Linked DNA regions of Homo sapiens. The protein of the gene in region 1 interacts with the protein of each later gene in a pairwise test. Each region holds a gene or a part of one and is shown in the gene's direction. Other genes may lie near its edges.

Evidence for each region.
Region 2: the proteins of SHANK2 (region 1) and DLGAP2 interact in a two-hybrid assay, tested with the Homo sapiens proteins (one study listed by BioGRID).

What each region holds. Positions count from the first base shown.
Region 1 is NC_000011.10:70,482,675-70,486,582, reverse strand, and holds part of SHANK2 (SH3 and multiple ankyrin repeat domains protein 2), read left to right. Parts: coding exon 1-1,269; intron 1,270-3,908. UniProt on the Homo sapiens protein: Seems to be an adapter protein in the postsynaptic density (PSD) of excitatory synapses that interconnects receptors of the postsynaptic membrane including NMDA-type and metabotropic glutamate receptors, and the actin-based cytoskeleton.
Region 2 is NC_000008.11:735,672-739,579, forward strand, and holds the start of DLGAP2 (disks large-associated protein 2), read left to right. Parts: upstream 1-1,956; 5' UTR 1,957-2,136; coding exon 2,137-2,154; intron 2,155-2,876; exon of another isoform or gene 2,877-3,908.

The sequences.
Region 1 (3,908 bases):
GGCCCCCAAGGCCGACCTCAACAAACCTCTTTACATTGATACCAAAATGCGGCCCAGCCTGGATGCCGGCTTCCCTACGGTCACCAGGCAGAACACCCGGGGACCCCTGAGGCGGCAGGAGACGGAGAACAAGTACGAGACCGACCTGGGCCGAGACCGGAAAGGCGATGACAAGAAGAACATGCTGATCGACATCATGGACACGTCCCAGCAGAAGTCGGCTGGCCTGCTGATGGTGCACACCGTGGACGCCACTAAGCTGGACAACGCCCTGCAGGAAGAGGACGAGAAGGCAGAGGTGGAGATGAAGCCAGACAGCTCGCCGTCCGAGGTGCCAGAAGGTGTTTCCGAAACCGAAGGTGCTTTACAGATCTCCGCTGCCCCCGAGCCCACCACCGTGCCCGGCAGAACCATCGTCGCGGTGGGCTCCATGGAAGAGGCGGTGATTTTGCCATTCCGCATCCCTCCTCCCCCTCTGGCATCCGTGGACTTGGATGAGGATTTTATTTTTACAGAGCCATTGCCTCCTCCCCTGGAATTTGCAAATAGTTTTGATATCCCCGATGACCGGGCAGCTTCTGTCCCGGCTCTCTCAGACTTAGTGAAGCAGAAGAAAAGCGACACCCCTCAGTCCCCTTCGTTGAACTCCAGCCAACCAACCAACTCTGCAGACAGCAAGAAGCCAGCCAGTCTTTCAAACTGTCTGCCTGCCTCATTCCTGCCACCCCCTGAAAGCTTTGACGCCGTCGCCGACTCTGGGATCGAGGAGGTGGACAGCCGGAGTAGCAGCGACCACCACCTCGAGACGACCAGCACTATCTCCACCGTGTCTAGCATCTCCACCCTGTCTTCCGAAGGTGGAGAGAATGTGGACACCTGCACAGTCTATGCAGATGGGCAAGCATTTATGGTTGACAAACCCCCAGTACCTCCTAAGCCAAAAATGAAGCCCATCATTCACAAAAGCAATGCACTTTATCAAGACGCGCTCGTGGAAGAAGATGTAGATAGCTTTGTTATCCCCCCGCCCGCTCCCCCGCCCCCGCCGGGCAGTGCCCAGCCTGGGATGGCCAAGGTTCTCCAGCCAAGGACCTCCAAGTTGTGGGGCGACGTCACAGAGATCAAAAGCCCGATTCTCTCAGGCCCAAAGGCAAACGTTATTAGTGAATTGAACTCTATCCTACAGCAAATGAACCGAGAGAAATTGGCAAAGCCGGGGGAAGGACTGGATTCACCAATGGGAGCCAAGTCCGCCAGCCTCGCTCCAAGGTAAGTCCGCGGTTGGTGCACATGCACACCGCTCTGCGTGCACTGTCCCTGCTGACCAGGAAAGGCCCTCGGGTAGCAGCCCCAGCGGACACGAAGAGGGGAATTCGTAAAGCCTGTGTGGGCCACGTCTGTTAATGCAGTAACACTTCTTTTTCTCATGCTCCTGGACTCCGGGATAGCCGAGTAATGATCACAGCCATCCTGGTGGGACACAGCACTCCTTCATAAAGACTTGTAATGAAATGAGGTTGCTGGAAGCCCTCCTCACCTTGGCTTCCAAAGAGAAGCTCTACTCTCTCTTCTGTGCCCTCCAGATCTCTGCCAGGACCACCTAGAAGGCCGTTTAGAGCCTCGCCAAAGCCCAAACCAAGCTTCGAGTTGGTTGCAGGAGACTAGCTGCCCCAAGAGGGCAGCGAGTGGGTGGGCGGTGGGTGCAGGTGTCTGAATACACGTGTGGGTTCTTCTTCCCCTCCCATCACTACCAGGTTTGCGGGCTTGGGAGGCACAGGGTCATGGCTGTACTGGTGAACTCTAAGTGCAGTACATTCTTCCCTGCCAGCCCATCCTGTCCCAGGGGCAGAAGCCTCTAGCTGTGTCCATGTCAGCCCTTCACAGTATTGTGCAGGGTTTACATTATTTCCATTGGAACTGAACGTAGAATAAGTCAGGAGTCATTTCTAGACGCAACCAGAGGGCTCTATCTGAGGCTGTCTGGAAGGAGCCTATATTTGATCATTCTTGCACTGCTATAAAGAAATAGCTGAGACTGGGTAATTTATAAAAAAATGAGGTTTAATTGGCTCGAGTTCTGCAGGCTATATGGGAAGCATGATGTTGGCTTCTGCTTGGCTTCTGGAGAAGCCTCAAGAAACTTTCAGTGATCACCAAAGGGGGAGCAAGAGGGAGTCGGGGGAGGTACCACAGTCTATTTAAACAACCTGATCTCATGAGAGCTCACTATGTACAGTAGCCAGGGAAGATGGTGCTAAACCGTTCATGAGAACTCCCCCACCATGATCTGATCACCTCCCACCAGGCACCTCCTCCAACACTGGAGACTACAATTTCACATATGAGATTTGGGTGGGAACACAGATCCAAACCGTATCAGGGCTCAGCAGTCTGTGGCTTTGGGGAGCCCCATTGGCTCCCGTGATGGCTTATGGTTCTTGGTTCTCCTTCCCTGTGGTGTGCACCATTTTGCTGTTCCCCAGGTGGCAGCATCTTCAGTCTCTCCCACTGATATTTGATCTTGGGTTTCATCATTTTGACTAATGAAGCCTCTCTCCATACCCCTGCTGGGCAGGCATTTGATTTAAGCCACTCAGTGCATTAATCAGTGACATCACATACAGCTGGGGCTCAAGATGCAGACTGAGAGCCCCAATTTTCCCAGTTATTTTTCAGTGTGGATGTAAATAAATGACTTGGATGTCATCTATTACTCTAAAGGAGTATCGATAGGCTGGCATTGGTATAGAGAAGCACAGTTACACTGCAGACATTCAGACAGTGCCTCCAGTCAAGGAGAAAGTCTAAGAATTATGTACGTATACACCTACAAGTACACTCAACAGCCTCCAGGAATTTTGAGAAAGGGTGTTGCTTTGCCGCTCAGGCTGGAGTGCTGTGACGTGATCACGGCTCATTGCAGCCTTGCAGCCTAGACCTCCTGGGCTTAAGCAATCCTCACACCTCACCTAGCCTCCTGAGTAGCTAGGACAATAGACGCATGCCACCACACCCAGCTATTTTTTTTTTTTTTTTTTTTTTTTTTGGTAGAGATGAGGTCTCACCATGTGTCCCAGGCTGGTCTCGAACTCCTGGGCTCAAACGAACCACTCACCTCAGCCTCCCAAAGTGCTGGGATTGCAGGCATGAGTCACTGCACTGGGCCAAAAATCTGAAAAACTGACTAGTTTAACCCTTCCCCATTACATACTAATGTGGCTCTTCCGTCATTACTCTATGTGGAAGCAATAATTAAAGAGGCCTTATCTTAGTGTTTCACATTTTTACAAAACACTTTCTCATGGGTGGGTAATTTTTATGACAACTGGGGAGCAGGTATGAGTCACACCCATTTTTCAGAGGATAAGTGGCTTGTCCACATACACAGCCAGCAGGAGGCAGAGCTGGGACACAGGCTGGGGTTTCCTGACTCTCACTTCCCCTTGTAAGCAATGTCTGCAGTAAGGAAGGAGCTGGAAGGGAATGGCTCTAGGGCTGGAGGAAGGAATCCACTGTTCAGGTCAGCAGGGCATCCTGCACCAAGCTGTGCTCCCCTGAGCACTCCACTCGGGGAGTCCAGGGACCCCGTCCATGGAGACCTCTCCCTGAGTGGCAGCTGGACAGCTCATCCCCTCTACTCGTCTTCAGGCTGGGCCAGCTCCTGGGGTGCCCACAGGGGAGTGGGACCCCAACTTGCAGCGTCTCTAGGGTTTCTCTGCCCTGCATTTCTCCAGGGGGACCCTGAGAGGGGGCTGGCTCAAAGCAGACTTCATAGGGCAGAATCCTGCTGTACTCTGAAGGAGAGCAGCTGCATACCACCGCCGACCCACGCGTGAGTGCCAAGAACGGCCGCCTCCCAGCTGTCCTGTTATTTATAGCCCGGCTCTCTTACAGTAAGAACAGGAGCC
Region 2 (3,908 bases), on another chromosome or scaffold:
GACTTTCTTTGAAGCTTTGGGAGGTGCTCAACTTGGGGAGTGGGGTGTGTGGGTGAGGAGCAGCCCTCAGTCACTGGGACCTAGAAGCTGAAAAGCTGTCCAGCCTTCCTAAGCTGACGTGCACTCCAAGCTGCTCCTGTTAGAGCACCCCAGCAGGACGGGGCCCCGGTGGCCACAGGAGCAGCCCAGCGTCACCGCAGCCTCTGGGACGTCCTCTCCTGCCCTGCCTCTCTCTCCCTACTTCCTCTCTCTAGTTTCCTGGGATCGATCTCCCAAATGAACTACCTGCACCCAAATCCACACCTCAAAACCTGCTTGTGGGAGAACCCAGGGGGAGATTTAATAACGACGTCCTCAAAAAGTTCTTTTCTGATGTCACAAACTGTATTTGTTGCCCTTTTCACATTCACCAATAACACTCCATATGTTTCCTTCAGAGAATTATAACTTGTAATTGTCTGTTCCTTGGGTAACTTCTGGGCGGATCCCTCTCTAGACTGAAGGCTTCATGGGGCGGCAACCGTGGTTTTCTGTGCTGCTCACACGCTGAGAACACAGGAGAGGCCGTCAGTACATTTGTGTGATTTTCTTGTTGCGGTTGCATGAAATAATATATATATATATTTTTAAAAAACGTGAAGGGATGGGGACGAAATGCAGGGGAGGAAAGCAAAGGGAAAGTAAATTGTGAAATGAAAATAAATTGGCCTGGAATCTCTCCCTAGTTGAGGTTTGGGCGCTGAATGCACCTTTTTTTTTTTTTTTTTTGACAGTGGAGACCACTGATAGATTCGGGAAACATTTAGAAGAAATGGACAGCGGCCGGACTTCTTTCTCCCATTCACCTTTCTACCCCCTCGTCGTTTAGCACTCTGCCTTGAAAATAAACTGCAACTGATGAATATTTTGGTGATCAATTATACGGGGAATTCTTACAGAGCCTGTTTTTTGTTTAAAGATCTTGGAATTTCTGGAAAAGATTGGTTTGTCCATTCCAAATATTTTGGATGACCTGATTTCATTCTAACTCCCATCCGTCTTTCTATGCGGTTTGTTTTCGCATCTTTTACCTCATTTAAATGCCGTAGCCATGCAGGTGGAAAGCAGAAATCCATTTCTGCGTTTATGTTAAACTGGGGCTGAGAGACTTGCCCAGGGTCGGTGACCGCCCAGGGATCCCCATACCAGCGCGTCTAGCTCCCGCGTTCCGATCCCGGAAGGGAAAACCCATGATCCTGGCGAGGGTCCGTCCACACGTGGCCAGGGTGGCTGATCTTCCCGGCTGCTGTGGTTGTCAACACCACTTCTCCGGATCGATTTTCCCTTTTCCTCGGCTCTGTCGTCCATACGCCACTCACAGCAAACCCAGGCGGCGGGCCCCCTCCGAGGGCGCTCCTTGCGTCCGGACCCAGGTTCTCGGGGCGCCCCCCGGTGGGTCCCCGCGAAGCCGCCGCCGCACACCTTCCTCAGCGTAGCCCGCCAGTGGAAACCGGGGGAGGTTCTGCCTCCAGCACCCAAGCGGCGGCCGCACCTCGCAGTGAGACCCTCGCAAGCGCCCGCGCCTCCCTCGCCCCGCGTCCCCTCTGCCCCGCGAGCCCCCCTGGGCGCCGAGCCGACTCGAACCCGAGCGCGAGTCCCGCGCACAAACGCGCCGGCGCGTCTCTAACAGCGGTCCAGAAAGGCTGACCCTGCCCGGGGGCGACGGGTGTGACCGGGTCCCCCGCTAACTTTCGGGCGCGGTGAGCGTCGCCTGCGCGCGCCGCGGTGGAGGCCGCTGCTTTCCCGCCGGGAGCCCGGCACAGTCCCCGGGTGACCCGCGCGCCCCGCGCAACAGTTGGAGCCGGGCTGCCCGCGCGCTCCCCAAGCCGGGCCCTTCCCCAGATGCAGCCGCGCGCCGGCCGCCCCCCAGTGCGCCGGTGCCTCCCTGGGCGCCGAGTGCGCAGGCGCCGGCCGTGAAGACCGACCGTGCGCCGGGCTCGAGCGCGGTCTGAGCGCGCGGCGCCTGCGGCGGCGAACGGACGGACGGACCGCGGACGGACGTACTGACCCCAACCCGCGAGCCCCGGGAGCCGTCGGTCTGAGGAGGGGCCGCTTCGCCATGTCGCCCCGCACCTGCTGAGCCCGGAGCGTCCGAGGATGTCCGCGCTGAGGAAGGTGCGAGCCGCCGGGGGCTGCCGGGAGCCGGGCGCGGGGCTCCGAGAGCCGTCGAGGCGGGGAGGGCGCGGTGTGTCGGACCCGCGGGGACGCCCCGAGGGCGTCAGGGTTGGGGGCGGGGGCGAGCGGGGGTCGTGCCGCCCGCCGGGGCCGGAGCGCTGGGGACCCCAGGGACAGCCTGTGCTCGGGGGTCGCGCGTTGCGCTCCTCGCCGGGCTCCGCGCATCCCTGGCCGCGCTCGGGGGTGCCGGGACCCTGGGCTCCGGGGGTGCGGGAGCGCACGGGGCCGCGGAGGTGTGAAATTCTCCGCTCTGCCTGCCCGGGGTGGAGGGGGCAAAGCCTGGGGGGTGCCGGCGCGCCAGGGGCTACGCGCCTAGCTCCGGTGGGGCAGCTGCGAGCGAGTGGGGGCGGCGGGCAGCAGACTGCATCCCCCTCCCCCCAAGCCCGGGTGGAAACGCCGACGGGGACTGGGAATGAATGAAGGGTGCCGGGCTGGGCTGCGCGCACGGGGGCTCGCGGGGGCGGGGGCGACCAGGATGGGGCCCTTGTGCCGGGCAGCAGCGGCTGCCGAGACCAGGCGGAGTGGAGGGTGCGCGCAGCGAGGGGGTGGCCGCCGCCCGGCTCTCCAAGTGCGAGCGAGGAGCTCGGGGTCTTTTTTAGGGGTGGTTGCTAAGCGAGGCGCTACCCAGCGCAGGGTTTTGTAACTAAGCCTCCCCCGGCAGCGGCTGTTGCTGTCTCCGGCTCCTTCGCTAACGATTGCAGGAGAAATAATGAGGATGTAATTATTACAGCCCTGCGCGGAGGGCTGGGGGGCGGCGGACGCGGGCTCCTCTGCCTGCGCGCCCAGGTGGGGCTGGGCTGGGCTGGGCTGGGCTGGGCTGGACTGGACGCCTCTCCCCGCCCGGCCCTCCCTCAGCGCGCGGCGTGTGCGGTGCCCGAGGCTTCGGAGCAGGCTGGACCTGGGAACCCGGGGAGGGGCCTGGAGGAGAGATAGCTGGGCGAGGTGGGCGCCGGCGAGAAGGCGGAGCCCCCGGACAGCGTAGGTTCGCAGGTGGAGAGCGGACGCGGGGGCGAGGGTGCGCGGCGGGTCTGCGATGCGCGTCGGAAACTCGCGGCCCCCGGTCCCGGCCCTGCGCGCTTGGAGCCCGGGTCCTTCCAGCCCCTGCGCGACGCCGCCGCCGCCGCCGCCGGTGAATGGCGATCCCGGCCACGGCCTGGAATTGGAAATTCGTGACTTGTCGGCGGCCCCGGTCTTCTATCGATTAAAGATAAAGCGATCAGCAGTGAATTTATCCTTCGTGTGGATGAACTCGGCCAGCCCGGGCTGTGGGGGGTTTGGGAACTGTAAATATTCTCCAAAGCGCCGCCGCTTCTCCCGTCTTCCCGGACTCGAGGCTGGAGGCAGCTCCGGCGACGCGAAGGGGGGTACCCCCCGGAGAGGTCGGGCCTGGGGCGCGGCGGACAGAGACCCGGTCCCAGAGCCTGGCGGAGCCCGACAATCCGCCCTGTCAGGAGGAATCTCATCAACAGCCCGTGAATTAATTGTCCTTGCAGTTGGGAAATAACCCGGTACCTCGGCGTAGCCCGAGGGAGTCCAGGAGGCTCTCCAAGGAGCCTTCCCCCGGGTCGCGAAGCTGCGCTAAACCCCGGCCCCAGCGCACCTTGGAAGGCGCATTTTGGCCTGAGGTGAACGCACCTTACACCATTTTCATTTTACTTCCTTTTCTCTGAGAAAGGTAATAGATAACCAAGGCC